Homo sapiens: one gene and its partners. The protein of the gene in region 7 purifies or fractionates together with the protein of the main gene of each other region. This does not show direct contact. Each region holds a gene or a part of one and is shown on either strand. Other genes may lie near its edges.

Region 1 (3,500 bases), on a different chromosome or scaffold from region 7:
CATCCAGGTTATAGTATAATGGCTAATTGTCTCAATTGATTTTCCTCTTAGATGGGCCCTTCTGTTATCTCCTATTACCTATAAAGGAGAAGCTATTTGAATTGACTGTAGGTGAAACTGGGCGACATCTTCCTCTGATGGAAATGTGGGGAAATTAATTATAAAAGTTATTTCAGTCCAAGTTGCCATCTAACAACCTTAGATGTAGCTCCATGTGTTCTGACTAAACATTTAATTTTTATAATTTCCTTTGTAGCTTTTAGATGGGATGATAGAATTATTTAAAGATAAAAATATGGGCTCTGCTTGACGGTACTCCAATTTTGTATGCCTCAACATTTTAATATAGTTAATGAATGCTGGGTACTTCAGGATATAAGATTTGAAATCTAAAACTCAATGGATAATGTGGCTTAGGACTCTGATGTATGTTTTCCTAATTATCAAGTTAAAAGCATCTGCTATCATGTAATTCAAAATGAAACGTTATTGAAATACAGTGTTTATAGCAGCCTTGATATGAAAGAGATGTGTTTTATATGCTTTCTACAATGTTTGCTGCTGTAAAAAAAAAATTGGGACTTTTTCTGGAGATAAAACTATTTTAAAAATTGATCTTCTAATTACCTTCTTCTGATTGAAGAAATCAATATAGAAGTATAATGTTATTATAAAAAGTTAGAAAATAAAAGCTAAGTTAAGGCACTGTTTCTATTAACCTTGTAGAAATTCTTATAGCCTGTAACACTAGTGACCTTGTTAAATTAAAAGCTATATCCCTGCTACTTAGTGTGGTACCTACCACATAGGAGGTATTTAATGAGTATTTGTTAAATAGAAGATTAGAGTCAGCTAGGCAGCCTTTAAGATGACAGTAATACTTTTAGGCCACAACAGAATAGGCAGTGTGCTGCTCTAAGCCCTTTCATACATGATAGTTAATTTTTACAACAATTCTATGAGGTTTTACAAATGAAAAAAATAGAAACAGACAGAGCTTATATCCCCTAGGCCACAAAGATTATAAGCAATGGAATTTGAGCTCAAGTGTGACTAGCCAGCCCTCTAACACACATCCTTTTACCACACCACACTGCCTTCTTGCTTTATGTGAACTTCTTTGGATTATGTATGAAACTATTGACAAATGAGTATGCTACCTCTTATTAACTTTTTCATAGAGTTATCAGTGGCATCTAAATTATTACTTGTATAACTTTTAAAATCTAATACCAAATAGCTATAAGAATCTGTAGCAAATATCATCCTCAATGGTGAAACATCAAAAGTATTTCTTTTCTTTTCTCATTAGAAATAAAACAAGGTTGCCCACTGTTACCATTCTATTAAACATGGTAATAGTGTCTTAGACATGATATATAAAGAGAAAATTGATAAATTGTGCTGCATCAAAATTTAAAATTTGAGCTCTGTTAAAAGACACTGTTAAGAGAATGAAAAGACAATCTACAGGCTGGGAAAAAATATTTGCAAACCACATTTCCAACAAAAACTGGTATCTAGAGTCTATAAAGATTCTTAAAACTTAACAGTCAGAAGGCAAATAGCCTAATTTTACAAATGAGCAAATAGTAGGCCAGTGTGAGTTATCAAAGATCAGAGCCCAAGCAAGGTAAGGACATCTATGGTGGGGAGAGGTAACCACTAGTGATGGACGTTAAGCCCAAACAGGATGAAGATGGCATTCCTGTGAAGGGGCAGCCTGGAATGGGATGTAGGAGCCCAAGTAAGGTGAAGTATGTGTCCCTGTGTGAGTGCAGCCCCTATGGGCTGTCAGAACCCAAGCAGGTAGAGTGGAGCATCTGCCCAGGGAGTAAGGTTAGTGGTGGAGATGGGAGATGGGTCACATACAGTGGACTTGAGCAAGAAAGTAAATATATGAAGGGTAACAAAATACATTAAGGATAATGAAAACAAATTTTTAACTGTTGGAGAGGGGAATTACAGATACTGAAAGGAAGAAAACTAGAATGAACCATGTAGTTATTAGATTGGAATTGGATATATTTTTGTGAACTCATAGATTTCAATGTATTTAGGTAGATATAGAAGTAAAATTAAAGGTAAATGTGAAAAAAAAAATGAGCAAAAGACTTGAACAAACACTTAACCAAAGAGGATAGAGGGATGGCAAATAAGTACATGAAAAGTTATTGGACATCATTAGTCATTAGAGAAATGCAAATTAAAACCATGATGAGATACTAGTACCTACCCGTTAGAATGGCTAAAATAAAAAAAACACTGACAATACCAAGTACTGATAAGGACGCAGAGAGCTAATGCAACTCATTATTGCAAGGGCAAACAATAACCAGAACATCTCTGAAGAAGGACCAGACAGAAGTACTCTTCCTATTAAATTTCAAGGATAATTATAAAACTTCAGTAACTAAGACCATGTATTGGCCTGGGAATAGAAAAATGCACCATAGAACAAAATGCAGTGCCCAGAAACAGATACCTGCATATAAACTGTGTTTTATGATACTGTTGCTATGGGCAAAAGTTAGTGGTATTTGGACAATAAACTATACATGTGAGAAAAGGATGAATGCAGATCCCCACTTCATACCATTCACAAAAATTAATTCCTGATAGGCTAAGGACTTCACTATGAAAGATAAAGCCTTAAAACTTTTAGAAAAAGCATAAGAAATTATCTTTATGATCTTAGGAAGGATAAATACATACGTGGTAAAAATTTAAAGTAAAGCAAGGGAAAAATAACACAAAATTCCAGAAGAGTTAAATCTAGGGGAGAGAGAGAATGACTGGGAAGGGGCCCAATCACTTTTGAAGCCCTCCCAGGGCTTTAAAAATGCTAGTTATGTTCTATTATGTATAGATGTTTACTTTATTTTTTAACTAATTCCTATATTTCTTCTGTTTAGTTGTAATTGATTTCAAGGTAAAAAATTTAACTTGTATATTTTACACTTGTCTGAAAATTATGATTATTGACAAAGCAGCTACCTCCTTCCTGTACCACATCCAAATGACTTTATTTATTTTTTGTTTGTTTAAGACAAGATCTCCTCAGTAGCTGGGAATACAGACATGTGCCACGATGTCTGGCTGATTTTTGTATTTTTTATAGGGACGGGGTTTCACTATGTTGCCCAGGCCAGTCTCAAACTCCTGAACTCAAGTGATCCACCAACCTTGGCCTCCCAAAGTACTGGGATTACAGGCATGAGCCACTGTACCCAGCCAATAATTTGATTTTCTTATACCTGTGAAACATTAGTTTCCCACTAGTATCTGCTTAAAGGGCTGCGTTGTTAAGGTTGTGGTGAATGTAGTATATGGTACTTCAGTACTTTAATCTCTTTCTTTTTTTCAGTCACCCAGTGAAGTTTATTCTTGGAAGAGACCATCATCTTTGCATAAACGAAGTGGCACTGATACATCATTCTATAGAGGAAAGAAGAAAAGGGGGACTCCAAAACAAAGCAATTGTGTGACTCTTTTAGATA
Region 2 (2,217 bases), on a different chromosome or scaffold from region 7:
TAAAAATCATGTAATTTATAACTATTTCGTGGACAATATATACATGAGATAAGATATAAAGTGTTTGCATAGTGTTTAACCAGTATTAGGTATTGGATATTTTTAGATGGTATCATTATTTTTAAAATGTAACTGACAAATTTGTACCTTAAAAAAACGAAAAGTTTATTGTTGGCATTTTGATATTCTATATGTGGTCATGTACTTTAAAAAAATTGTTTTCTTCAATTACAGTCTAGTTTTAGGCTTCTGCTTTCTGATTATTTGCATTGGGTTTCTGTCCAAAGTGATTTCCAGATGTTTGAACCATTCAGGACACAAAGTGTCCCGGGCATGTTCATCAGCAACTTGTTCTTTTGCTCCATTTCATTAGGAGAGACAATAGAAGATGCTGTTAGGAGAGAAGTAGAAGAGGAAAGTGGAGTCAAAGTTGGCCATGTTCAGTATGTTGCTTGTCAACCATGGCCAATGCCTTCCTCCTTAATGATTGGTTGCTTAGCTCTAGCAGTGTCTACAGAAATTAAAGTTGACAAGAATGAAATAGAGGATGCCCGCTGGTTCACTAGAGAACAGGTAAAGTTCAATTTAATTTCCTTCTTCTATTGATTGTTCCCTGACTGTATTGGTTTGGTCACAGAGCAAGGATGCATATTTTCAGCAAGTTGAATGATGCCTTTGGCCCTCTCATTATGCATGGATTACATGGTAATTAGTAATTCCATACAGGAGGAGTATGTTTCACTAATGTGATCTATATTAACTTATTCTATGAGATTTTTCTAGTAGAGATGATTCTGTACCATTTCGAGTTTCAGATTCCATTCCTTCACATAAATAATAATACCTATCAGTGGGTTTAGAAAAACATTAATTCATAGATGAGAAACAGGAATATTCTTATACATTTTATATTTTAGTTTATAACATTAAAACAAGTAGCTCTCAAAAAACATCAGTAAGTGCTTAAAATTTTCAGAAAGTTTTTATTCATTTTAAAATGTACTTAAGGACAAGAATGACATAACTGTATAATAAACATACACTTAAAATAACTTTCTAAAATGTCATTCCTAAATAATATATTAAAAGATAAATTACTCATCTGACCTGAAATTCTTTCTGACTTTGCCTGCATAAAATTAATTTTATTCTATGCTTAATCCTAAAAGATGGAAATTAGATTATTGCTTATGAATTTTATAAAAAAGAATCTGTTTCAAAAGTTGGCTTTGCTTAGAAATTAAGTGTGGAGCGTACATTTTGCTTTTTCGTGATGTCATTTTCATAAGGGAATGTGTCTTTCTGGAACATTTTAGAAACTGAATCACTTACTCAGTGAAGCAATTAAAAATGCTGTCCTAAATTTTGCATGTTGAGGCGGGGCGTGGTGGCTTATACCTGTAATCCCAGAACTTTGGAAGGCCAAGGCAGGAAGCTTGATTGAGCCCAGGAGTTTGAGACTAGCCTGGGCAACATAGGGAGACCCTGTCTCTACAGATAATTTTTAAAAAGTTAGCCAGGTGCACCTATGGTACCAGCTACTTGGGAGGCTGTGGCAGGAGGATCGCCTGAGCCCAGGAAGTCAAAGCTGCAATGAGCCATGATCCCACCACTGCAACTCCAGTCTGGGTGGCAGAGTGCAAGACCTTGTTTCCAAAAAAAAAAAAACTTTGCATGTAAATATGGATGTTGTCACTTTCTACTGTTGTTATTCACTGTAAAACTCATCACATTTTAATTGAATTATGTAAACATGGGAATAGTATTTAAATATGACAGCTTTGAAATCCTAATGCATTCTATTATGGTGTGTTTTAGGTCCTGGATGTTCTGACCAAAGGGAAGCAGCAGGCATTCTTTGTGCCACCAAGCCGAGCTATTGCACATCAATTAATCAAACACTGGATTAGAATAAATCCTAATCTCTAAATCTAAGAACTAAGCTTTGAGTATTATTTAATAATTTCTAATAACACTCATTCCTCAAGTGATATTAGAGATTATTCAGTACTCTTGAGAGTGTCACAACACAAAATACGATGTTGGGTTTTCGAAATATTTTCAAAGTGTTCTGTCTTAATCACAAATTCATATTTTTACACATTTTTACAATATTGCCTCAGATTATGTTAAATTTGGGTCAGTCTTCTCTGAACTTTTTCTCTCTTGGTTTCTTTTCTTCCTTCACAGTTTTATCTCACAAAACCATTTTTCTAA
Region 3 (3,500 bases), on a different chromosome or scaffold from region 7:
CTCTTACTTGTTCCCAAATTTAAATACGATGCCTGGTACTGACAAAGAGCAGGGAAAAACATGTTCTTTCCCTACATCATTTTCTCATCTATTTAATCAAAACAAACAAGTAGTTTGTGTCTTTTCAATATATGTATTTTAATTAAAAAAATTATCTGTTGAACAGATGGATCTCACTATGTTGCCCAAGCTGGCCTTAAACCTCTGGGCTCGAGTGATCCTCCCACCTTGGCCTCCAAAGAGCTGGGATTACAGGCATGAGCCACCACACTCAGCCTGTATCTTAATACTTAAGAAAATTTACACTGTGAAAAATTGATACCAAGATGCCAATGCACGTTAAAGAGAAAACGGTTGGCCATGATGATAAGAAGACCAATTGCTGGTGGGGCAGGAGAGCTACAAGGAGCTTTGATGACGCTCAGAAGGCCTTTTTGTTCAGGGGGTAGGACAGCTGTTCCCAACACCCATCTGCCTCATACCTCACTGTTACTGCAGAAATATGAGGGTGGGGGGAAACATGTGAGAAAGGAACTGGGCACTTCCCTGATCCTTGCAACCAAATATGGCTGAGATCATGACCATTTTGAGTTAAGTTCAGTTATGCATCATACCTGCATCAGATATGGGTAGTTAAATGATTTCCAGTGAAGAATAAAAAAAGAACAGAAGAAAATGTTACCTTAAGCTGGGAAGACGTGTCCTGGTTTCCATAAATCCTTTGTGCAATTCCATGGTTTTCATTGGACAGTCTCTTCAAAAAATCATAGTCCACATCAAATCCCATGCCCAAACTGAACAAGGAGATATTGTCTTGGATGTTCTCCTTAACGTTTTTCTGAATTTTTGACAGTTTTAGTTCGCCTAAAGTTGGTGATGTCCGAAAGGAAAGGAATGAAGAAGCAATATCATAAATTTTCTGGAAAATCCAGGGAGGGCAGTTTAGTAAAGTGTGTCCAGATTAAAACTGCATTTCCCTTTTGACCCAGTAACTCAATTTCTAGTTTTTCTTAGAGATGCACTCGTACATGTTGAAATGAAGTGTGGGTTGTGTTGCATAGCAACATTATTTGGGAATTAGCAACATATTGGAAACAACATAAATATGCACCAATGAGGGCGCTTGGTTAGATGATGATACATTTAAACCGTGAGATACTATGCAGCTATTAAAAAGGACATGGAAACTCCTTATGTATGTATACCAGACAATCTCAAGGGCATGTTTAGAGGAGAAAAAAAAAACAAGGTAAATATCAGGGTACCTAGGATGCATTTGCATGCATGCATGTATAAATGTATGTATGTGTATGTATGCATATACACATACATGTGTGCAAACATGTATATATAGTATACAGGCATGCATAAACTATTTGTGGAAAGATACACAAGAAACTGGTAACCAGTGACTGATTCCAGGGACAGGAACTGAATGGTTGAGAAACAGGAGTGAGAAACCATGATTAAACCAAATTATGGTTTAATTTTGTTTTTTTTTTTGAGACAGAGTCTCACTTTGTTGCCCAGGCTGGAGTGCAGTGGCACGATCTCAGCTCACTGCAACCTCCGCCTCCTGGGTTCAAGGGATTCTCCTGTCTCAGCCTCCCGAATAGCTGGGATTACAGGCACACGCCGCCCTGTCAGGCTAATTTTGTATTTTTAGTAGAGATGGGGTTTCACCATGTTGGCCAGGCTGGTCTTGAATTCCTGACCTCAGGTGATCCACCCACCTCAGCCTCCCAAAGTGCTGGGATTACAGGTGTGAGCCACCATGCCTGGCAAGTTTAATATTTTAAACTATATTTCCTTTTCCACCTTATGATTTCATTCAAAACTTGAATTTTGAAAATAATCTGATCTGAGGGAGAAAACATTGGCTCTACAACAAATACATAACACTGGCTCATTCTAGTCTCGTTATTAATAAGATGGTTGCTCTCTGGCTTTCTAAAGCTCTGACTGCCATTGTTTTTGCCTCGTGCATTTTCATTCTGCTTGGCTGTGTCAGGACGTGTTAGACTCGGTCCTAGTCTGTACGACAGCACACTCAGGCAACACAATCTGGCATTCGCTATTACTTACAGTGGCCAGAATAAAGACACAAGTAAAACAAAGATAGCTTGGCACAGTGGCTCACACCTGTAATCTCAACATTTTGGGAGTCCGAGGTGGGAGGACTGCTTGAGCCCAGGATTTTGAGATCAGCCTGAGCAACATAGTGAGACTTCGTCTCTCCAAAAAAAAAAAGAAAGAAAAAAAAGAAATTAGCTGAGTGTGGTGGTGCACACCTGTAGTCCCAGCTACTCAGGAGGCTGAGGTAGGAGGATCACTTGAGCATGGGAGGTTGAGGCTGCAGTGAGCTGTGTGTGCTCCACTGCACTCCCTCCTGGGTGACAGAGCAAGACCCTGTCTTCAAAAATAAATAAAATAAACTAATGTAACAAAAATAAAAATAAATAATAGAAGTAGGGAGATGTTGCTGCCCATTTTGTAGAAAGAAAAATGTTTAACTTCAAGGTTGTGTCAGAGAGCAGTCATTTCTCCAGGTGCAACCGGGAGAAGTGTGGAGAATAATAGGGAATATGCTACTGTGGCCTCCAAAGGTACTGCTGGGAGATCTGGGATCAATACTCATCATTCACCACCCCCATACACCATCTTCACATACCTCAAGTTGAGGAAATAGATGCATTTCCCTAGAATGCATCAGCAATCCTCACAACATACTATTAAAATTCAGACTCAGATTTCTGCATATTGTGGAGGTGGAACTGAGGCATTCAAGAGCGCCCTTGCTGAAAGTGTCTGAGCAGTAGCTTAAGGGGTGAGGGCTGCAGGATCAGAAGACCTCCTTTAGGAAGCATGGGTTTAAAATGTTCTAGAAACTCAGGCAAATGCCATTAGAGTTCCCCTTTTAGGCAAACCACCATTCCAAGAAACAACAGTGAAAGTGTTTGTCGTGAGAAGGTTGAAGTGACACTTGCCCACTGTTGGATCTCCATCAGAAACCAAAATGATCAGCGAGACGGAGTTGGGGTCTAACAGTCCCAAGTTATTGGCTTCATTCAAAATGAAGATTGCCCGTAGGAGTGCTTCGTTGATGTTTGTGCCTGTTGAAGTAGCATAATGAAACGTTGGGTATGCGTTCTCGCCACACGCAGAAAATCCCATTCTGGATTCAGACTCATATGTCGGCTGATCACTTATCCATCACTTATTCCATGCCAAAATCATTTCATTGCTTTCTGAGTGACACAAACTGTGCTCAAGCTGGTGGTCCCCCAGTGCAGTGAAATATTCACTTTGAAATAAACTATCCCCTTAGAGATGAACTAGCCCTTTCAAAGCACAGACTGTTAGCTTGTTAAACACCAGATTAAAGTATCCAAATCAGCCTTGCCAAGATACTCTGAAGATAGTAACATTTTATGCTTTATGCAGGCAATAAAGAAGGCCAGTGTCACTGAACCTTTTTCTGAGAGACATTAAAACGGTTC
Region 4 (3,414 bases), on a different chromosome or scaffold from region 7:
CACTTTGGGAGGCTGAGACAGGCGGGTCGTTTGAGCCCAGGACTTTGAGACCAGCCTGGGCAACATAAGGAGACCCTGTCTCTACAAAAAAATTAAAAATTAACTGGGTGTGGTGGTGTACACCTGTAGTCCCAGGTACTCAGGAGACTGAAGTGGGAGGATTATTTGAGCTCGGAAGGTTGAGGCCACGTTGAGCTGTGATTGTGCCACTGCACTCCAGTCTGGGTAACAGAATGAGATGAAAGAAAGAAGGAATGAAGGAAGGAAGGAAGGAAGGGAGTGAGGGAGGGAGGGAGGAAGAGAAAATGTGAATGGATGAATCTCATAAAAATAATGCACAAAAAAACAGATACAAGTGTGTATGTGAGAAAACATTTTAAATGGTCCATTTCTGAGGCATGATAAATCTAAGTACTGGCAGCCAGCCTGCAAATATAACAAACTGCAGGGCTCATCCACCTAGAAGGTCACAATAAGGGAACAGAATGTAGAGGCGGGGTCAGCCCATAAAAGGGAAGAAAGTGGCCGGCGCAGTGGCTCACGCCTGTAATCCCAGCACTTTGGGAGGCCGAGGCAGGCGGATCACGAGGTCAAGAGATCGAGACCATCCTGGCCAACATGGTGAAACCTCGTCTCTACTAAAAATACAAAAATTACGCAGGTGAGTGTGTTTCTCACATAGATAAAGTTCAGAATACAAACCAAACTAAACTACAGCATTAGGAATGCACCCTTAGGTGGTAAAATGAAAAGAAAAACAAGAAAGTGATTACCATAAGTATCAGCATAGTTGTTACTTCTGCGTAGAAAGGAAAGGATAGTGATAAGAAGAAGAGGAAGGGTTCTGGGATGCTGGAAATATTCCACTTCTTGGACTGTGTGGTAGTTAAACGGATGTTCACTTTGTGATAAATCATTCAGCTGTATATTTATGTTTTGTTTACTTTTCTGCATGTTATATTGCACAAATAAGATTCGAAAAACAAATGTCCAAGGTAGTCAATGCAATGTTAAAGATAACACGAAAAGACTGTAATTACAAAGCTTTGGTAGCTAGGACGATCCGTATGGATGAAGACAGGCAAAGGAATGAATGAAAAACAATTTAAAAATCCAGAAAAGACCATGAATCTAAAATATCTTGATATATAATAGAGGTGGCACATAATCACTGGAGAACAAAGAGAAACACCCTAGGACAGAACCTTGAGAACGCCTACAAGAAGCGATCTTGTAAGCGTTCCTCATAAACATCAAACTGGTTGAAATGTCCCCCGCCCTTCGTCGTTGGGATGTTTCAGATGCGTTGGCGCTTCCCGGCCTCGAGGGGGCATCTGGAGAACGGCGGGCGCCGGGAAAGTACGCATGCGCACTGCTCCCAGGGTTTGCGGTAAGAATCTATGCTCTCGCGCCCGGTTACGCACACTGCATTTACAGCGCGCATAGCGCCCACGCACGCGCACTGGGGTGTCCGCCGGGCATCGCTCTGTCCAGTTATTCCAGTTTCTCTGGGAGCAGCCGAGTTGACCCCACGGTCTGAGATGTCCAAGCTGCCCGCAGACAGCAGTGTCCCGCAGACAGGCGCGGCGAATGGTGACAGAGACGTCCCGCAGGCGGAGGTAGGCCGCGGGAGGCGGGAGCCGGCCCCGGCACAGCCTGAGGAGGCCGGGGAAGGCGCGATGGCGGCGGCCAGGGGAGGCCCGGTGCCGGCGGCCAGGGAAGGTCGGATGGCGGCGGCCAGGGCAGCCCCGGCGGCGGCAGCCAGGGGAGCCCCGGTGGCAGCGGCGGCGTTGGCCAGGGCAGCCGCGGCGGGCAGGGAAAGCCCGGCGGCGGCGGCGGCCAGGGAAGCCCGGATGGCGGAGGTCGCCCGCTTGCTGGGGGAGCCAGTGGACGAAGAGGGTCCCGAGGGCAGGCCCAGGTCCAGACACGGGAACGGAGGCCTGGCTGCGTTGCCCTATCTCCGTCTCCGCCACCCACTTAGCGTTTTAGGCATCAATTACCAGCAGTTTCTCCGCCACTATCTGGAAAATTACCCGATTGCTCCCGGCAGAATACAAGAGCTTGAAGAACGCCGCAGGCGATTCGTGGAAGCCTGCAGAGCAAGGGAAGCAGCGTTTGATGCCGAATATCAGCGAAATCCTCACAGGGTGGACCTCGATATTTTAACCTTTACGATAGCTCTGACTGCCTCTGAAGTTATCAACCCTCTGATAGAAGAACTTGGTTGCGATAAGTTTATCAATAGAGAATAGTTATGTGGTGACACTACTTCAAGAGAACCTCTGCATTCCAGTCATACCAATCCTGCAACTTGATTTTCAGAAGTCAAGAGTATATCGCGATAAGACAGTGCACAGGTGGAGGGGAAAAAAAGGGGGAGGGGGAAGCTTATCTTGAAAAAGCATCACAGAAGTAGAAAAAAATGTCGAAAGCATTATAACTGTAACGTTCTTTGAGTTTGTGATTGATCCACATTTTTCCCCCTGCATTATGGAAAATGTCTCTCAGCATTGCTTTATTACAAAGTAAAGGATGGTTTTATAAAATTGAGACTGATGAAACATCAATACTAGAGCCCATGAGGATGAAAGAAATTATCAAATAGTGCTGAACAGAATAAGATGTTAACGCTGAGTTATTAGGACTGGAAGGCTATGAAAAGAACTTGAAATTGTCGGAATATGTGCTCTCTTCATGTCATATTCAATAGAAGTTTCTAGTTTAAGATTGATTTTGTGTTTTCTTAGGCATTTCAAGTGACAAGCAAAGTAAATGTATATATTATGTGATAAATCATGTTTTCAAGAACGTCAAATTTCTGGACTTTTTTCTTTCAATTTTTAATTTTTAAAGTTTTTTTGGTATTAAAAAATCTATTCACAAGCCAAAAAATATATAAAATATACAGCGAAAAGCCTTCCATTCTTGTTTTCCTCCATCCAGTACCAACGATGACCTCTAATAGCCACAGTTTCCTTTCCGTCCTTCTAGTTTCCTTACGTGTACACAGGCACATATAAATCTGGGTTTACTTGTTTTATTTCTTCACAGAAGTCGGCATATTATATTTACTGGTTTATACATTGCTTTCTCATTAAGAACATATGTTGACCCTTCCAAACCACTGTATTTCCTCATTATTTTTTAAAGTGGCATTTTATTCCATTCTGAGGTTATGTCCAAATTTACTTAACCAGGGATATATTGACGGACATTTAGGTTGTTTCCCATCTCTTTCTTTGGGCAGAATAAAAAATTGCTAGAGTAGTTCATCTTGTACAATTGCTAGAGTAGTTCATCTTGTATATCATGTGGCATGTGCACAAATATAGTATTGCTTCAATTCAAAATTCACTTCATATTTGAACATCTCTGAAATGTGGGTGCATCTTATATTTGATGCTGTAATAGATC
Region 5 (3,500 bases), on a different chromosome or scaffold from region 7:
CATTAACTTTGAGAGAAAATCAAATGTGCGGTTCCCTAGACGTGGGGGTCGGTGTGATAAAGAGGCTAGAAGAGCTGAGCAAAGATTAGCCTGTGTTATTTAAAGCAACTAACGGTGCCAAAGTCAGCAAGAGAGGGACCTACAATAGTATAAATCACTAGGAGGGAGCACGTGGGCACATTTTTGAAAAATGAGGGAATCACCAAATATTGCCATTAGCTATTGTTAATGTATTAGAATGACGAAATGTGTTATGGTATTTTAGGAAGCACAATCTATTATTTTGTTCTTTGGTAATGTTAACATTAGGCTCTGTCTACATAGTTCAGAGAGACTCCTTATGTTGTTCAATCCAGACTCTCTAATCCTGCCTTTAAGGCCTTGAATTTTGTTCACGACAGATCTAGCATTTCATGATCCTCTTCAACCAGGCACTGCACCAGGCTCCTCACACAGAGCCCCGGCAGCTGTGCTGACGCCATCTGTCTGCCATTCTTCTCATGGAAACCAGTTTTGTCTTATCAGCATTTTCTAATGTGAGCTGCTTTCTGCCTAGAAACAGCTTCCTTTTCCTGGCAACCCATGTATCTCGTCTTCTTCAAAATGCAGTGGAGAACCCACCTCTTCTGGCGAATCTGCTTTATACCTCATAGCCTCTGCACTCCTGGACTCACTTGCTCAACATCATTTTTCTTTTACTAACATCTTACTGATTTTGCTGTGTTTCTCAGATATACCTTGTTACTCTGCTTCATACATTTTTAGCTCCATTAGGTAAAACACTGATCCTACTTTTCCTGAAACTTTAGGTACCAATTCTCAGCAAATGGTAATAACTCATTTATCCATTTATTGCACAAATATTTATTGAAAATCCACCATGTTTCATGCACTATCCTAGGCACTGGGAATACAGGGGGGAAAATAAGACATAGATCCCCCATCCCCACCCAAAGAGCTTGGGTCCAGGTCCCAGGAAATTTATTAACTGACTGCCTGAAAAACCAAGTGAGCTTAACTGTCAAGGATAAATTATAATCATGCAAAAACAACAAAAAATTTCTCCCCATAGTAATTTGTCCTAGATTATCAGGAAAATCATGGCTGACCTGAGTAGTTTCCCTTATAAATAAAGCATTGCTTTTGCTAATGCAGATATTCTCCCATACAAATGTAGGAAACAGATTTTTCTTACACACCATGGAGATACCTACAAAAGGCTGTGTTTGCACTATGGGAAGTCAGGAGCAAGTAGAGGGCAGTGGACTGTCATCAACACTCCTGGGAGAGCCACCTTTTCCAGAGCATCTGCACAGGGATGGGTATTCTGCTTTGAGTTTCTGACATCATTGTCCATTTTAGTAAATTTTGTATCATAGTGAGCTTTCTGGTATTTATGACAAATGGAAATGCATAGAAGTAGAAAAGCCAAACATAACGGAATTTAACAATGTATAATAATTTTATATGACTTTGCATAGATGTGTAAATAAGTAATTCCAGGATCTCAAAGTATAATTTTCAAAATAATATTGTGTTATTTAAATAAACTAATAAATTGACATTAACGTAATTGAAAATAGGTCAAAGAAATTCAGTCTGTTTATAGCCTTTAGCATTAGATAAACCACCAACAGCAAAGGAGAGGATAAATATTCTAAACCACAGCCAGAGAAGCCATAAATGGAAATGTAGTTAGTAGCTGCCTCCTGGTCACAGAGGTCACTTTTTTGACAATTTTATGAGTCCCAGTAAGTAAAATGTGTAATCACCAGTCAGTCCTAGGTGAGGCAAGTCTTGTTGCAGCTTTGTTTGGGTGTTGGTGGAGAAAGGGAAGGAAAGTAGTGGCAGTGAGCACAGTGGTATTTGTTTTTTGTTGTTGTTTGTTTTTATTAATTTAACTCACCTAATATTTTTATTAAATAACCCACTCAGAAGGTAAACAGACCTCATTCTTAAGAAGGAGTAGCACAGGTTTTTGTGTTTAAAATCTACTTAATGATACATTAATTCCACTGGAAATGTTAGCCTATTTATCAGACACTAAGAAATGAGCAACAAGAAAGTAGGAAGGAAGTCATAGGGCATCAGTTGTAGGAATGCAGCGGGGTGGAGGCAGTTTGCAGATAGATGTCAAAAAGAAAAGCCTCAGTCACTGCTGAGGCCTCCCTTAGAAAATGCAGCAGCCAGCCCAGGGCCTTGATCTGCTGCCAGAGGAAACTTGCCACATCTGAATCTAACATTGCCGTATCTCTCAGGACTGTTATCACTGCAAATGCTGGCAAATGTTCTTGACATAAAACAATAGATACTCTGCTGTCATTTCTGCATTAACGAGTCATAAAGCTCTGAAGAAACCCCAGTAAAAAGGTTTTCATCAAGTGCATCTGAGAAAATAATAAAAGACACAAAAAACAGCAGATAATTTCAAAGCAGGATTGTTGCACCATCGCATAGTACCTAAAAAGGACAGTTTGTAATCACTGACTTGAAAATAATACTAGTAGTAATTATAATAAATTTCAAAACAAAACAAAATAACAAAAACCTTAGCCAAAACTTTAAAACCAAGTTCAAAGAATTACGTAAGTGGATGCTTTATAGATTATTATCCAATAAATAGCCATACATCACTCAAGTATTTTTCATCTCCCCTCCCTCTTTCTTATCGAAAGAATCTCTCTTATCATTTCCACACCCAGCTAAGTGAAGCTGATTTCTGAGGACAACCCTTTTACAATCTCAACTTCATATATTATTATACTGCATAGTGTAAATGCGCAGTCCTCCTTGAAAATACAGAAAAGTGAAAGGCAAACCAACCTCAGGGTCTACTCTCAGAGATTCTTAGAGGGAAGACAGAAATTGGGTGAATTTTTTATTATTGATTCTTTCCCTACTTTTTCTTCCAACATACTACCATGAGTCTGCCACAGTGATGATCTAAGACCTCTGAAATCTGCCTCAGGGGTCTTAAATCATCACTGTGGTAGACCCAGGGTAGTATTTTGGTTTTTATACAAAAATTGTCATCTAGGAATCACAAGTTTTATGATATTGTTAATGAAGCTTAGAGTGGTTGTTGAAGAATGATGAAATTATATGATCCTTTTTTGTGTACTACTTAACTTCATGATATAGGAGAGCCGAATGAATATAAAAGTGATACAGATAAGGCAAAATTAGATTTTACTTATAAATTACTGTAAATATGAATGTACACACACAAATTTATATCACCTTTTGATCTGAAAGAAATTTCTTATAACTAGTTCATTATGCTATCACTGAGCATTTTTTACTTTTCTAGAACTGTAACCTGCATACTCATTAAGGCACATTTAGTAAATTATTCCAAGAAGTACACTGCTTTGAGAAAATATGGATTTTTAAACTACACAGGCTAGAGGAATATGATCAAATTGAATCCTTTGCATTCTGAAATTTGCAATGAAAGATTTATACATACATGTTGCCCTGCTGTTTGCAAAAACAAACAG
Region 6 (3,121 bases), on a different chromosome or scaffold from region 7:
TCCCTTTACAGACTGACCCTACCCTTTCTGTTACAAAATACAGAAACGTTGCCAGTGTTTTTTGGTTGGTTGGTTGGTTTGAGGTGTTTTGTTTTGAGGACTGTTCACTTTTCTTTCTTTCTCATCGCATGTAAACAAGACATTAAAGTTTAAACAAAATTTAATTTCACCTTAGTTCCTAAAGCTGACTTTATCTATTTGTCTGTGTTTCACTCAGTGTAACCTTGGGATCCCTGGAGCAGGTTTTTATTTTGTTTTCTTTTCTTTTTTCCTTGGAATGCTTGTGTCTCACGGCCAGTGTGTCTAAGGGTTAGGAGCTGCACCTTCCCGCAAGTCAAAAGGGCCAGCCGAATCCTGCCTGAGCCGGTGCTTTGCTGCTTCCTACACAGGTTTCAGACACACTGATCCTAATCTTCTCAGTCAAACTCCAAGACACACAGTGTCAACAGTTACGGCAGCCACAAGTTCATTATCTACATAGGGCGCAATTACTTGGCAGCTACCTAGACTGTGAGGTTTTTGTGGGTCCCCAAAGAACTCATATCCTGAAGAGAGAGACTAATCAAGGCGGGTCCTCTTGGCAGGGACATTGAAAGGGTGGGTTACAATTGATAGGAATTTTAATTTGTGAGGACTTAATCTGATATGCTTTTGGAACAAGATAGTGTAGATGTACTTATTGTCCATCTTCTGGGAGCATTCTTTGAAGATTCATTTGATTGTATGGTGATAGTATTGTTGAAAGGACACAGAATTTTATTACATGAATCTGCTTCTATCCTTCACCTGCCTAACTGCCCAGGGCCACTGCAGTGATTTATTCAGCCTGCATTGTGGTGAGGGAAGGGACGACTAATGTCTCAAACAGTGTGGTGTTCCCTAGTCTGCTCTCCTGCTTGCTGAAAGCTCCTTTTTGGGAAGGCAGATGCTTAGTTTTTCAGGAAGCACTCACTTAGGATGCAGTATTTTAGTTTTAAATAATACGCACTGGTTGACCTTTGAGCGGACAGAACTTTTGTTGCTAGAACCTGGTGGCACTGGTGTGGGTGATGTTAATTAAGGGCCAGGTCCTGACACCAACAAAGCCAGGAAGTTTGGAATATATAATCAAGACAAGCCAGAAGTAGCTACAGAGTGGGCCTGTACTGTCCTTCCGTCTCTCGTCTATTGAAAGTAGGGGCCCTGGATCCAGGAGGCCAGCTTATCAGGAGACAAGAGTGCATTCCTTTACCTGCCTTGGTCGGAGCACTTGAACACTTTTACAGAGCACTCCCAACCCCTACCATTCCCACCCCCAAGACAGGGTCTCACTCTGTTTAGGCTAGAGTGCAGTGGTGTGATCTTGGCTCACTGAAACCACAGGCTCAGGCCACCACACCAGCTAATTTTTTTTTTTTTTTTTTTTTTTTTTGTGAGGATGGGGTTTCGCCATGTTGCCCAGGCTGGTCTTGAACAACTGGGCTCAAGCAATCCACCTGCCTCGGCCTCCTAAAGTGCTGAAATTATAGGTGTGAGCCACTGCACCTGGCCTCCACAGTGTTTTTGAGGGTAAACGTATGCTATGCCACGTCAGGATGATCTGTCTTTGACTTCTGTCGGGTGAAAAACAGGATTGGGCATAGATGACTTCACCAAATCAATTGTGTTTTCAGGTTAAATAATGCCCTTTGTCACACCTTTTAGCATACAAAATTAGACTTACCAGTATTGTTGCCTTTAAATTTAATCCAGTCTTGCCTCAAGAGCAGCAGTTCTCAAAGTGTGATCTTTGGTTCCCTAGGGCCCTTTCAGGGAGTGTGCAGGGTCTGCCCTTGAGCAACATATCTGTGTGAGGCTGGATTTCCTTCATCTGCTTCAAGCAGAACAACATACTGCAACAGATTAAACACAGATGCAGATACAGGAATTCAGCTGTCTTCTGCAAATCTAGACATTAAAATGTAAAACAATGCCACTTTTTTAACTAAAAATATTTTTTTACATAATATAATTTTTTTCCTCAAAATATATTGTTTATATTCATTTTTCATACTTATTTTTAAATGAATTAATATTTTTAACTTTCTGTTTTAGTTTCTGATATAGTAAATAATGATAGATATTAGTCCACATAAAGAATGTTTTCGGTCCCTAATAATTTTAAGAATGTAAAGGGCAGGGCTTGAGGCCAAGAGGCTTGAGAACTGCTCACTAGGGGACCCTCTTGCTAGAAACACCTACTTCTCCGTTCTCTTGGTCCTGTGTAGTGGGAAATGGTATAGCACAGGCCTAGGTTTATGAGAACTGCTCACTAGGGGACCCTCTTGCTAGAAACACCTACTTCTCCGTTCTCTTGGTCCTGTGTAGTGGGAAATGGTATAGCACAGGCCTAGGTTTATACAAACTTTCAGAGAAAAATGGCTCCAGTGTTTACTATAAAACAAGTAGCAGATACGGTCAGATGACAGTCGTGGTGCTGATGGCCATTGCTAGTCCGGGAGCCCTTGGATGTGTGTGCCTGCCTTTCTCTTGATTCAGTACACATCGTTTGCTCTGTGTTCTGTCTGTGGCCCAGCAGCCCATTCTTGTTTTAAATATACGGACTTCAGTCTCTCACTTTAATTTTGCTCTTCTTATTAGCAATGGCTCGGGTAAAGCATTTTTTTCCCATTTAAGTTTTTTGGAGATCTGTTCCTGAAAGAACAGATTTGTTTGTTTTTGTTTTTTTAACTTTCAGTAGTTTTTGGGGAACAGGTGGGTTTTGGTTACATGGATAAGTTCTTTAGTGGTGATTTCTGGGACTTTGGTGCACCCAGCACCTAAGCAGTGTACACTGGTATGTTGTCTTTGTTTTATCCCTCCACCCCTCCCACTCTTCCATCCTGAGTGCCCAAAGTCCATTATATCATTCTTATGCCTTTGCATCCTCATAGTTTAGCTCCAACTTATATAAGTGAGAACATATGATATTTGGTTTTCCATTCCTGAGTTACTTCATTTAGAATCATGGCCTCCAGCTCCATCGAAGTTGCTACAAAATACATTATTTTTTTCCTTTTTATGGCCGAGTATAATATTCCATGATGTATAAATATCACATTTTCTTTATCCACTCGTTGGTTGATGGGCACTTAGGTTGGTT
Region 7 (4,154 bases):
ATCAACAGTAAGACAATAGCTGGAAGAGGGCCATGCAGATTTGAAGATCATCTGTTGTTTAAATCCTGAGGGTTTAGGAAAAGGAGAGGGAGAAATGCAACAGAGAGAGGAGACAATTGTTGTGAGAAAGCAAGTAACACTTGGTTGTCTTCTTAAAATGTGATGTGAGTACACCTACATACCTATAGGACTAGTAAAAAATCATGTCAAAATAGGATCTCAATCTATAAAAACCCTTTAATATAAATGCATTTTCCAGTTGAGAGTGTAGGGCTAATTCCAAATAAGGCTATTATTTCTGTAATTGTTTATAACAAACTAGACCTAACTCTGTGAAGCAATCCATTACTATTTTGTAGATGACAAAACTGAACTTTAATTTACCCTCCTATGGTTAGGAGAGAGGAAAGAGGTGGTTCACAAAAGGTCCTCTGAATCCAATGCTTAATCCTCTTCACGGTGCTCTTTGACAATACTCATGTGAGCTGTTAAATGAGTCATATAACATTCACTGAAGCTAGAATAAGAGAGATTTTGAAAAACAAAACAACAATCAATCCACATAATAACACCTAAATGAAATATTTTTTGTTTGCATCTTTTCTCAAGAAGCATAATTTTTTTTCATCAAGTATCAGAAGTGGAGGACACACTACTTTAGATATGTGTTAAAGAAAAAAGTAGCAGTGTAACAGAATGTCTCATAAGGGACTATATGCAAAACATGTGTTATATTATAATGAATAAAAAATTATCCCACCTTAGCAGGTACTTGGAATAAATTGTTAAAAGAAATATAATAGGAAATAGGGATACAAAAATTATTTCTCTGAAAAAAAGCATAATACCAAGATTAGCACCAAAATCAGGTAGTGCTTTCCAGATATCACATTTACATTTTTTCAAATACATATATTTATTTATTTTTCCCTTAGTCAAACACATTACAGCATCTATTTTATATCAGGAACAGATAAAATATGTCCATATAAACAGAAGACATTGGCTTTTAATTATTTGTATTCAATTTTTAAGAAATGATCATCTAGGGAAAATGTTTTAAAATCTTTTAAAATATCTTTTTGTTATACTTTAAAACTGCCTTCAGCTGCCTATTGGTAAATAAGGTCTGGATATCAGTACATGACAACATATACTAATGAATTGAACTGTGAATTAGGAATGAAAATTGCCTAGAAATTTTTTTATGAGTTATTAGGATTAAAGTAAGAATTTCCTTTGCTGGGCTGTGTAGGCACTAAGATTCCGTGGTTGTTGGAGGGGTTAAATTTGGATCTACTAGTGCATATATTTTACCGAGGATTCATAAAAACACGACAGTGGAGCCTGGGTCAATCCATTACCATGTACAAGCAGTGACCAATAGAAAAGGAAGAAGAAGATCCAAGAAGGCTGAGGTAAGCAGTCTTCTGAAGCCCTGTCAAAGTGGAAACAATAGATCAAAGGTGTTCATGGTGACTGGGACGAGTAGGTTTCACTGTTTCTCATAGACGACTTGACAGCTTAAAGTAAAAACAAATTATTTTCGTCAAAGTTTTTTTTTTTCTCTTAACTGATTTTTAGCAAACCTCAGACTGAGACACAGGACTCAACGGTGTATTCCTGGAAGGCAAGGTAAACTATTTTGCACTTTTAAAAACTCTTAAAGTTAAGCATGCAAAGTACTTATTCAACAGACGCAGGGTTACAACTTCAATAACTAAACCAAAACCCTATTCTGAAAAAGAAAAAAAAAAATGATGTTTCTTTGTTGGAACATGGCCAGAGCAGCGTTCTGCAATCCTAGAAAATTTGACAGCTTGCAGAAGCAGTTCTGCACTTGTTTTCTGCAATTTAATGGCAAAATTGAATGATCAGCATTTCATAAATGAAGTTGACTTTATCTTTTCCTAAGGAATCAGTAAAATTTATTTCATCCTATTATCAATCAGTTCAATAAATGTACATTGGTCAGAATGTTACTGATATATATATATATATATAAATATATATGTAACATATGTATGCTATAAATTATTAAAATATATATGTATATTTCCTGTTAAAATAATTATTTGTACCAATAATCTTTGATGATCAGTGGGGAGGGTTTATGTGTTTTAAATGTATCAAATATTAGTAAACGCTAACCTACTTTCCATTATCCACACTGATAATATGAATATAAAGAAATTCTCCACCCGTATCCTAAATATGTTTTTGGTTGTTTTTGTTTCTTATCAACCATAATAATGGCATAGTTGAATACAATACTCATGTACTTGTGCTATACATCACAATGTATTCAACTCTATATAATAAACTCTATCTCTATATATACATATATATACATATATAGAGACAGAATATACATATTCTCTGAGAGAGAGAGAGAGAGAGAAAGGGAGAGAGAGAGAGAATTGATAATTCAATAGCTTGGCTGAACAACTTAATTGTGTGCTTAAAATTATAGACATCTTCCCCCACCCTCAAAAAACTTACTTGAGAGGTTGAGCTAGAGAATAACAGATTAATTACATTTTTATTCAGATCCTAGAACCTTCCTTCACCATAAAGTGCTAAAATGTTCTTTGATCCCTTCATTCCTTTGGTTCAAGGGCCAAAAGGCCTAGGAAATCTCATCCAGATGTTCTGCTCATTTAAGAGTAAAAGTAAAAGCATATGCTTTCCTCTCAGGAACAACACAGATTCCCAGTTTGAGTTTTTAAAAGATCACTTTTTTGTACTCTCATATTCAACTACTGGTTTCAGTTCAGTTCTTTAAATTAAATAGCTTGAAATGGAAAAACACTTAGAGCTGCTAAAATTTTCTTTCCATTTCTCGGCTTTTATTGTGTTTGGGTTACAACCAGAAAGCTACAAGTCGGTGAATTATTCTCAATGTTTGCAAAATGCTTTGCATATGGTGCCTACTAACTAATGTATATTAATTAAGATCTGTGTATGAAATGTTGACATATTTTCACCTCTTCCCTGAAGAAGCAATGTTTACTGATCATTTTGATGTATAAAATTATCTAAAGGTCAAGATCTTCAAATATCTAACAGTTGTGTTCCTTTTTCTGTAGGTGCTATAATGGCAGGCACAATCTGTTTCATCATGTGGGTGTTATTCATAACAGACACTGTGTGGTCTAGAAGTGTGAGGCAGGTCTATGAAGTACATGATTCAGATGATTGGACTATTCATGACTTCGAGTGTCCCATGGAATGTTTCTGCCCACCCAGTTTTCCTACTGCTTTATATTGTGAAAATAGAGGTCTCAAAGAAATTCCTGCTATTCCTTCAAGAATTTGGTATCTTTATCTTCAAAACAACCTGATAGAAACCATTCCTGAAAAGCCATTTGAGAATGCCACCCAGCTAAGATGGATAAATCTAAACAAGAACAAAATAACCAACTACGGAATTGAAAAAGGAGCCCTAAGCCAGCTGAAGAAGTTGCTCTTCTTATTTCTGGAAGATAATGAGCTAGAGGAGGTACCTTCTCCATTGCCAAGAAGTTTAGAACAATTACAATTAGCTAGAAATAAGGTGTCCAGAATTCCTCAAGGGACCTTTAGCAATCTGGAGAACCTGACCCTTCTTGACCTACAGAACAACAAATTAGTGGACAATGCCTTTCAAAGAGACACTTTTAAAGGACTCAAGAATCTCATGCAGCTAAACATGGCCAAGAATGCCCTGAGGAATATGCCTCCAAGATTACCAGCCAATACAATGCAGTTGTTTTTAGACAACAATTCCATTGAAGGAATACCAGAAAATTATTTTAATGTGATTCCTAAAGTGGCCTTTTTGAGACTAAATCACAACAAACTGTCAGATGAGGGTCTCCCATCAAGAGGATTTGATGTATCATCAATTCTAGATCTTCAACTGTCGCACAATCAACTCACAAAGGTTCCCCGAATCAGTGCTCATCTGCAGCACCTTCACCTTGATCATAACAAAATTAAAAGTAAGTAACCTGCAGAGTATGTCTTTGACTAAAGGGCTCATGGTCATTAAATGTATCTTTATTTTCATTAAGAAGAGCAAATGTGTTGCCCCCTCCCCCGCTAATGTTCCTTTAGATTTTTAGTGTGTTTTCAATTTTCAGTATTAAATTTTGTCTATACGCAGACAGTCT

The links.
Region 1: the proteins of KERA (region 7) and VWA8 purify together in Homo sapiens (affinity purification with mass spectrometry; 2 studies listed by BioGRID and IntAct, with this or other methods). This does not show direct contact.
Region 2: the proteins of KERA (region 7) and NUDT12 purify together in Homo sapiens (affinity purification with mass spectrometry; 2 studies listed by BioGRID and IntAct, with this or other methods). This does not show direct contact.
Region 3: the proteins of KERA (region 7) and ITIH2 purify together in Homo sapiens (affinity purification with mass spectrometry; one large-scale study listed by BioGRID and IntAct). This does not show direct contact.
Region 4: the proteins of KERA (region 7) and EID2 purify together in Homo sapiens (affinity purification with mass spectrometry; 2 studies listed by BioGRID and IntAct, with this or other methods). This does not show direct contact.
Region 5: the proteins of KERA (region 7) and EFEMP1 purify together in Homo sapiens (co-immunoprecipitation; one large-scale study listed by IntAct). This does not show direct contact.
Region 6: the proteins of KERA (region 7) and BLMH purify together in Homo sapiens (affinity purification with mass spectrometry; 2 studies listed by BioGRID and IntAct, with this or other methods). This does not show direct contact.

What each region holds. Positions count from the first base shown.
Region 1 is NC_000013.11:41,685,110-41,688,609, reverse strand, and holds part of VWA8 (von Willebrand factor A domain-containing protein 8 isoform a precursor), read left to right. Parts: intron 1-3,367; coding exon 3,368-3,500. UniProt on the Homo sapiens protein: Exhibits ATPase activity in vitro.
Region 2 is NC_000005.10:103,550,573-103,552,789, reverse strand, and holds part of NUDT12 (NAD-capped RNA hydrolase NUDT12), read left to right. Parts: intron 1-373; coding exon 374-573; intron 574-1,818; coding exon 1,819-1,929; 3' UTR 1,930-2,217. UniProt on the Homo sapiens protein: mRNA decapping enzyme that specifically removes the nicotinamide adenine dinucleotide (NAD) cap from a subset of mRNAs by hydrolyzing the diphosphate linkage to produce nicotinamide mononucleotide (NMN) and 5' monophosphate mRNA.
Region 3 is NC_000010.11:7,727,316-7,730,815, reverse strand, and holds part of ITIH2 (inter-alpha-trypsin inhibitor heavy chain H2 precursor), read right to left. Parts: intron 3,114-3,500; coding exon 2,988-3,113; intron 865-2,987; coding exon 683-864; intron 1-682. UniProt on the Homo sapiens protein: May act as a carrier of hyaluronan in serum or as a binding protein between hyaluronan and other matrix protein, including those on cell surfaces in tissues to regulate the localization, synthesis and degradation of hyaluronan which are essential to cells undergoing biological processes.
Region 4 is NC_000019.10:39,538,207-39,541,620, reverse strand, and holds EID2 (EP300-interacting inhibitor of differentiation 2), read left to right. Parts: upstream 1-1,459; 5' UTR 1,460-1,541; coding exon 1,542-2,252; 3' UTR 2,253-2,914; downstream 2,915-3,414.
Region 5 is NC_000002.12:55,882,283-55,885,782, reverse strand, and holds part of EFEMP1 (EGF-containing fibulin-like extracellular matrix protein 1 precursor), read left to right. Parts: intron 1-3,500. UniProt on the Homo sapiens protein: Binds EGFR, the EGF receptor, inducing EGFR autophosphorylation and the activation of downstream signaling pathways. May play a role in cell adhesion and migration. May function as a negative regulator of chondrocyte differentiation.
Region 6 is NC_000017.11:30,250,824-30,253,944, reverse strand, and holds part of BLMH (bleomycin hydrolase), read left to right. Parts: intron 1-1,711; exon of another isoform or gene 1,712-1,871; intron 1,872-3,121. UniProt on the Homo sapiens protein: The normal physiological role of BLM hydrolase is unknown, but it catalyzes the inactivation of the antitumor drug BLM (a glycopeptide) by hydrolyzing the carboxamide bond of its B-aminoalaninamide moiety thus protecting normal and malignant cells from BLM toxicity.
Region 7 is NC_000012.12:91,055,225-91,059,378, reverse strand, and holds the start of KERA (keratocan precursor), read left to right. Parts: upstream 1-1,354; 5' UTR 1,355-1,635; intron 1,636-3,089; 5' UTR 3,090-3,097; coding exon 3,098-3,983; intron 3,984-4,154. UniProt on the Homo sapiens protein: May be important in developing and maintaining corneal transparency and for the structure of the stromal matrix.